Linked DNA regions of Homo sapiens. The protein of the gene in region 1 purifies or fractionates together with the protein of each later gene. This does not show direct contact. Each region holds a gene or a part of one and is shown on either strand. Other genes may lie near its edges.

What was found.
Region 2: the proteins of RHBDL3 (region 1) and EIF2AK3 purify together in Homo sapiens (affinity purification with western blotting, with the first as the bait; one study listed by BioGRID). This does not show direct contact.

What each region holds. Positions count from the first base shown.
Region 1 is NC_000017.11:32,321,050-32,325,072, forward strand, and holds the end of RHBDL3 (rhomboid-related protein 3), read left to right. Parts: coding exon 1-180; coding exon of another isoform or gene 181-353; 3' UTR 354-3,610; downstream 3,611-4,023. UniProt on the Homo sapiens protein: May be involved in regulated intramembrane proteolysis and the subsequent release of functional polypeptides from their membrane anchors.
Region 2 is NC_000002.12:88,556,241-88,558,852, reverse strand, and holds the end of EIF2AK3 (eukaryotic translation initiation factor 2-alpha kinase 3 isoform 1 precursor), read left to right. Parts: intron 1-916; coding exon 917-1,117; 3' UTR 1,118-2,112; downstream 2,113-2,612. UniProt on the Homo sapiens protein: Metabolic-stress sensing protein kinase that phosphorylates the alpha subunit of eukaryotic translation initiation factor 2 (EIF2S1/eIF-2-alpha) in response to various stress, such as unfolded protein response (UPR).

The DNA.
Region 1 (4,023 bases):
GGCGTGGCCGTGGGCATCACCCTGGGCGTGGTGGTCCTGAGGAACTACGAGCAGAGGCTCCAGGACCAGTCACTGTGGTGGATTTTTGTGGCCATGTACACCGTCTTCGTGCTGTTCGCTGTCTTCTGGAACATCTTTGCCTACACCCTGCTGGACTTAAAGCTGCCGCCTCCCCCCTGAGGGCTGGAGGCCCAAGGTCGGGGAGGGGAGGGAAAAGCAGCACCCACAGGGAGCGCCTGCGAGGTTTCTTCTCATCACCAGCTCAGCTAGGCCGGGCAGACAAGGACAGAAGACTCTGGGCCACTGTAATGTTTGTGTTTAGATTTGGACACACAGTGGAGACCCTTTTCTGAAAGGCATCTGGCGGAGGAGTTGATGTGGCTGCTGTCGTTTTTCTCGGCTGCTCTGATGACATCGGGCCAGGGTGAAGGTCTGGGGTGGGGTGTGAGAGTGGCCCTCCCTCACCTGGGCTGGGCTTCTTCCATGGGGCCAGGGGGTGCCCCCTCACTGCTGCGGATTGAGCAGCAGCTTCTTCCTCCTCCTCTACCCTCAGAGACCCTAAGAGACATGGGAAGGCTCGAAGGTTGTTGCGTCCAGGCATGGCCCCTCTCTAGCTCAGAAATAATTGCAGGCCATGTGGTGTCTCCTTGACACCTGCTGTGTCTGGGGCTCCAGTAAGAAGAGGGCCTACTGGACATGTCAGCTGTGACCTGGCTGAAACCAGGGTGCCCTCCTGGGCTGGTTGGTGTGCACCGGGGCATGATCTGTTGTGCCTGGGTTGGGCAGAGCAGGGAGCCTGTAGGCTCTAGGACCCCTCTTGTGCTGGGGGTACCCAGTGAGAGGGACCCATGCAGGGGGAATAAACTTCATTCCAAGTTCCACCCTGGAGAAGACAGACCCAGGACCAGCTTCAGACTTCTCCCTCCCTTTCTTCCAGGATATTGGCATCTCACACGGGTGCCCCAGCCTCCATGCCCAGCCTTGTTTTAGGGTCTTTTTCTTTCCTTTTGCTGCCCTGACACTACTTTGTGCCTCTCTTTGGTTATGGAGACAGTGTTTTGAAACATTCATGCGTGTGTGTGTGTGTGTGCGTATATGTGTGTATGTGATGGGAAAGGTAACTGAGGCACGACAGCGCCTGCAGAGAAGGCATGGAGGATGCAGGGGGCCCATGTGGGCATCCGTGAGAGGTGGCAGACCGTGGTGTGCTGTGGTTGCTGAATGTCCTTGCTTTGACAAAGCCTGCCCCCTTCCTTCCCATCTCCTGTCCCTTCCACACCTGCCCCTGAGCATCACTGACCGGTGGCAGAATGGCCCTGCTGGAGGGAGAGCTCAAGCCCTCCAAGGATCCCTGGATGCTGAGGTTTGCCAGGTTCAGCTCTTGTTTCCGTCTGAGATGGCCTTCATATCCAAAAAGGTTCCATCCTATCTCCCTTAGGAGAGAAAGAGCTTTGGGGGCGCAAGAGAGGCTGGGGTAGGAATGTTGAGGCCATGTGTCCATTTAAGTTAGGGGGACAGGAGGCTACAGGAAGAGGAATTCCAGTTTAGTTGGAAAACTTTGCCTCAGGAGAATTGTTGGGTGCATGGATGAACCTCAGAGGGAGGGCAGCCAGTAGCCTCGGAGGCTTGGATGCGGGAGAGAACATGGTGGTTATCAAATCCACCCCACCCCATTACACAGGTGAGAAAACAAGATGGAGGGAATGACCCTCCTAACAGGAGCTGGTGCAGGCCCCGAATGGAGGGCATGAGGATGACCTTTGACAAAAGATGACACTCCCTTTATCGTGCTCTTGGAATTCTCAACCACTGACAGCCCAGAAGAACAAAGAACGCCAGGCCTGGGAGGAGGCAGGGGGGCTGGGCGTGTCCAGAAACAGGGGCAGGAGTGTGGGAACGGTCTTCCTCCAGCCTGGTGCCCATCCTGGCCCTTGAGTGTAGCAGGGTCCAGGGTCAGTCAGGCCAGGCATTTGGGGTCTTGGGCCACAGTGGCTTCCCATCCTGGTGACTACATGTAAATGGGCTCACTCACTCACTGGCAGGCGAGGCCCAGCCATACCGCATCTTGGCCCACTGCTAAATAGATTGCCCTGGCCTCATCCACATATGTAGTTCCCTAGGTCCTGCTCCCCTGCACCAGTGCCATGCTGAGGGCCGCAGCCTGTGGCACTGTGGGCCCACGCCTTTGGCGGTGTTGCGTCAGCCTGGGGCGTCTTGTGTGTGCCCTGCCCACCGTTCTCTGCCCTAGTGATAGAAAGATGTAGATGGAAGTCAGTGCCTCAGAGGAGGAGGCTCTGAGGCTGTGGAGCTGGGCTCAGGGAAGACCAGGGGAGGATGCAGAAGGAGTCAGGACATTGCTGCCTCTGCCTGGGCTGCAGCCGCACTAAGCTGAGCGATGAGGTCCTTTCCTGGAGGGATGGAGAATCCCCTCCAGATTCCTGTCCTGGCCCCTGGGGATTCTGTGGTGTGGGTGGAATGAGCAGAGTGCCACCTCTGTCTGGTATGACCTGGAGAGGGGGCTTCCTCTCTTAGGGGTGAGAAAGCATTGAACTAGAAGATTCTAGAAATCCCTCATAGAAGCACTCAGCTCCCTCGGGGACTCCCAGGGAAGCTTGTTACTGAGAAGGACAGTGGAGGCGGAATCGTGTCTCCCACCATGTTAAGTGTGTCCTCTGCTGCCAAGGACCCTCGTCTACACCTTAGACCACCAGCCCCAGCTGTTCTCTGTCAGCACACCCACCTCCATCCCCTCTCCCAACCATGACTTCCAAGCGGGGCCACAGGGTGGGGTCATAGGGTCACTTCACCTGACCCAGGCCTCTCCCCAGGTCAGGAGGCAGCTGTCTGGTCAGAGGGGTTCTCTTTGTGGCATCTGGCTTTCTCCTCAGCAGGTCCCACCACCCTCTCAGCAGCACTTCCCCATGGCCAAGGCTGGCCGTGTCCTCTGTGCCTCTTTCCTTGTCTGAGGTGGCTGCCAGCCCAGGGGGTGGTGTGTAAATCTTCAGGCTGGTGGAGGTAGGTTGGCCTTTTATCCACAGGATACAGAAACTGAAAGCTGGGGAATCCCCAAACAGCAGCCATAGACTCACTGGCTCTCATTAAACGGGAGAGGAATCACAGAAACTGGGGAAGGGAAAACAAACCTTCAAAGGAGAAATTTCGCTTTAATGACACCATTCATCATTCGTTTTTTAATTAGGAAAAGCTCCCTAATGAGGCTCTTTTGCCAGCTAATAGGACTCTCGATTTCCATGAGAACCATTCTTGCCCAGAGGATTAGGGGAGCTGTTGCTCACCACACCAGGATCTTCCCCCAGCGTCCAATTTAATTTGCAAATACGTAATGCAGATTCCCTGGGTGCCGTGAAAGCCTTTCCTGGCATCATTCATGTTGCTCCCCGTGCTGGCTGGAAAGCACGGTTCTCCTCTGCCTTAAAAACAGTGCCCAACAGTGAACTGCCCCTCCGAGGACTTGAGTAAGTGGAAAAAACAAAACACAGACTGCAATGTTTGTTTCTAAGTATTTTTGTATTGTGTACATTCTGTATATTTTTGTTGTAACATATTATTTGAGCACAGATTCCATTAAATATTTTTTTTCTTTTTCCAAGCCATTGGTTATTCAGGAAGTGACCTGAAGGGCTGGCATTAGGGCCTGTTTCATCTGGGTCTGGGTCAGGATGGGTGGGAGAGGGTGAACAGCAGCGGTGGTGGATCCAGGATTTCTATAAAATACAGATTGGGGCATCAGTGCTTAGCACCAGTCTGTAGCTGTGTGCATCTTACTTAACTTTTCTCAAATCACTGAACTCTTTTGAGTGGTTGATGAAAGCTGTGATTTCTCTTCCCATAAAAATGTGTATGTAGGACGGGCATGGTGGCTCACGCCTGTAATCCCAGCACTTTGGGAGGCCGAGGCGTGTGGATCACCTGAGGTCAGGAGTTCAAGACCAGCCTGGCCAACATGATGAAACTCCGTCTATACTAAAAATACAAAAAATTAGCTGGGTGTGGTGGCGCACG
Region 2 (2,612 bases), on another chromosome or scaffold:
AGTCGACTCAGTTTCCCCTATTTTACAGATGAGGAAGCCAAAGGTCTAGAGAGGAAAGAGACCTGCTCCCAAGAGCCCAGAATTTGTTAAAACCAAACACTGGAGCTGGGGCCTGGCTCCTTCAGCCTAATGTCCAGTGTTCCACACTGTAGCACCTGTGAAATTTATATATTGATAAATCTTGAATTTCCTTAAGTAATTAAGTTGAAGTGAGTTAGTATGTGTTCATTTTCAAATTGGAAAAAGTCAAAATTTATCTTTCAGTATTATAATGAAGGGTTGCATTAAAAAATGGACTTTATAACAATATATTAATACCTACATATACTTAAGTCTGTTTTACTAAAAATTGTCATCATGTATTTTGCAAACTTGATGAATCTATTCCCAGGGTGGCTCATAAGAGTACATGTTACGTTCAAAGAGATTTTTAAAAACCAAGAAAAGGTGTTGGTTGCTGATCTCTGCCATAATTTTTTCTAATTAAAATTTCTATTGAGATAATTGTAGATTTACATGCAATTATAAGATGATTTTTAAAAATCATATTTATGTTTCAGGGATGTGATTAAATAATCCTTTATAATGTGTTAGAAAATCAAATTACCCAAAAATTGTCCATGTTTTTTTGGAATGAGGGTTGGCAAACTAGTGCCCACAGGTCAAATCCAGCCTGCCACCTATTTTTATAATAAAGTTCTATTGGAACACAGCCATGCCCATTAATTTACAAATTGTCTCTGGATGCTTTTGTGCATTGACGGCAGAGCTGAGTAGTTGTATCAGAGACTTGAAAACTCGAATATGGCTCAAAAGCTTAAAATATGTACAGAAATATTTTGCCAGCACTGATTTTAAAAACTGTACAGTGATCAAACCTGGCCGTTTTATCACAAAACAATTTTTATATTTTCAGTACGTGATGGTTCAAGACATGCTCTCTCCATCCCCCATGGAACGACCTGAAGCTATAAACATCATTGAAAATGCTGTATTTGAGGACTTGGACTTTCCAGGAAAAACAGTGCTCAGACAGAGGTCTCGCTCCTTGAGTTCATCGGGAACAAAACATTCAAGACAGTCCAACAACTCCCATAGCCCTTTGCCAAGCAATTAGCCTTAAGTTGTGCTAGCAACCCTAATAGGTGATGCAGATAATAGCCTACTTCTTAGAATATGCCTGTCCAAAATTGCAGACTTGAAAAGTTTGTTCTTCGCTCAATTTTTTTGTGGACTACTTTTTTTATATCAAATTTAAGCTGGATTTGGGGGCATAACCTAATTTGAGCCAACTCCTGAGTTTTGCTATACTTAAGGAAAGGGCTATCTTTGTTCTTTGTTAGTCTCTTGAAACTGGCTGCTGGCCAAGCTTTATAGCCCTCACCATTTGCCTAAGGAGGTAGCAGCAATCCCTAATATATATATATAGTGAGAACTAAAATGGATATATTTTTATAATGCAGAAGAAGGAAAGTCCCCCTGTGTGGTAACTGTATTGTTCTAGAAATATGCTTTCTAGAGATATGATGATTTTGAAACTGATTTCTAGAAAAAGCTGACTCCATTTTTGTCCCTGGCGGGTAAATTAGGAATCTGCACTATTTTGGAGGACAAGTAGCACAAACTGTATAACGGTTTATGTCCGTAGTTTTATAGTCCTATTTGTAGCATTCAATAGCTTTATTCCTTAGATGGTTCTAGGGTGGGTTTACAGCTTTTTGTACTTTTACCTCCAATAAAGGGAAAATGAAGCTTTTTATGTAAATTGGTTGAAAGGTCTAGTTTTGGGAGGAAAAAAGCCGTAGTAAGAAATGGATCATATATATTACAACTAACTTCTTCAACTATGGACTTTTTAAGCCTAATGAAATCTTAAGTGTCTTATATGTAATCCTGTAGGTTGGTACTTCCCCCAAACTGATTATAGGTAACAGTTTAATCATCTCACTTGCTAACATGTTTTTATTTTTCACTGTAAATATGTTTATGTTTTATTTATAAAAATTCTGAAATCAATCCATTTGGGTTGGTGGTGTACAGAACACACTTAAGTGTGTTAACTTGTGACTTCTTTCAAGTCTAAATGATTTAATAAAACTTTTTTTAAATTAAGTATGTTGACTCTTATTTTGAGGAGTTAGTCCCAAAATGGTAGATTTTCTAATTTATAAAATGGGATCATAGATCTAGGAAGAGTCATAAACCTATCCTCAAAAAAACTTCTTCCTAACCCATTTCAGACAGGTATCTTTTTCATCATTTCCCAAAGACTTGGCAGGCCCTTTCAAAATTCACAAGATCCATAATTGACAGACATTTGCCCAGTACCTACCCTGTGCCAAGGACTGAGAATATAGAGGACTTTCCCCTAAAGGGAGAGCTCTCAGAGAAAAGGGCTGTGGTGATGCTAGTTGTATTGATACCGAGGTGTATCTGACATGTGCCACATCGAGGCATGTGGCAGGCTGGGCTGATGGGGCATGAACCAGCTAGACACAATCTAGAAAGGTCAAAATGCATAGCATCTCCATATTACAAACAAATAATGTCTGCCACGCAAGGTTATGAGCAACTTGTACGCTGGAAAAACACTTCCCAGATCTTTGTGGCTG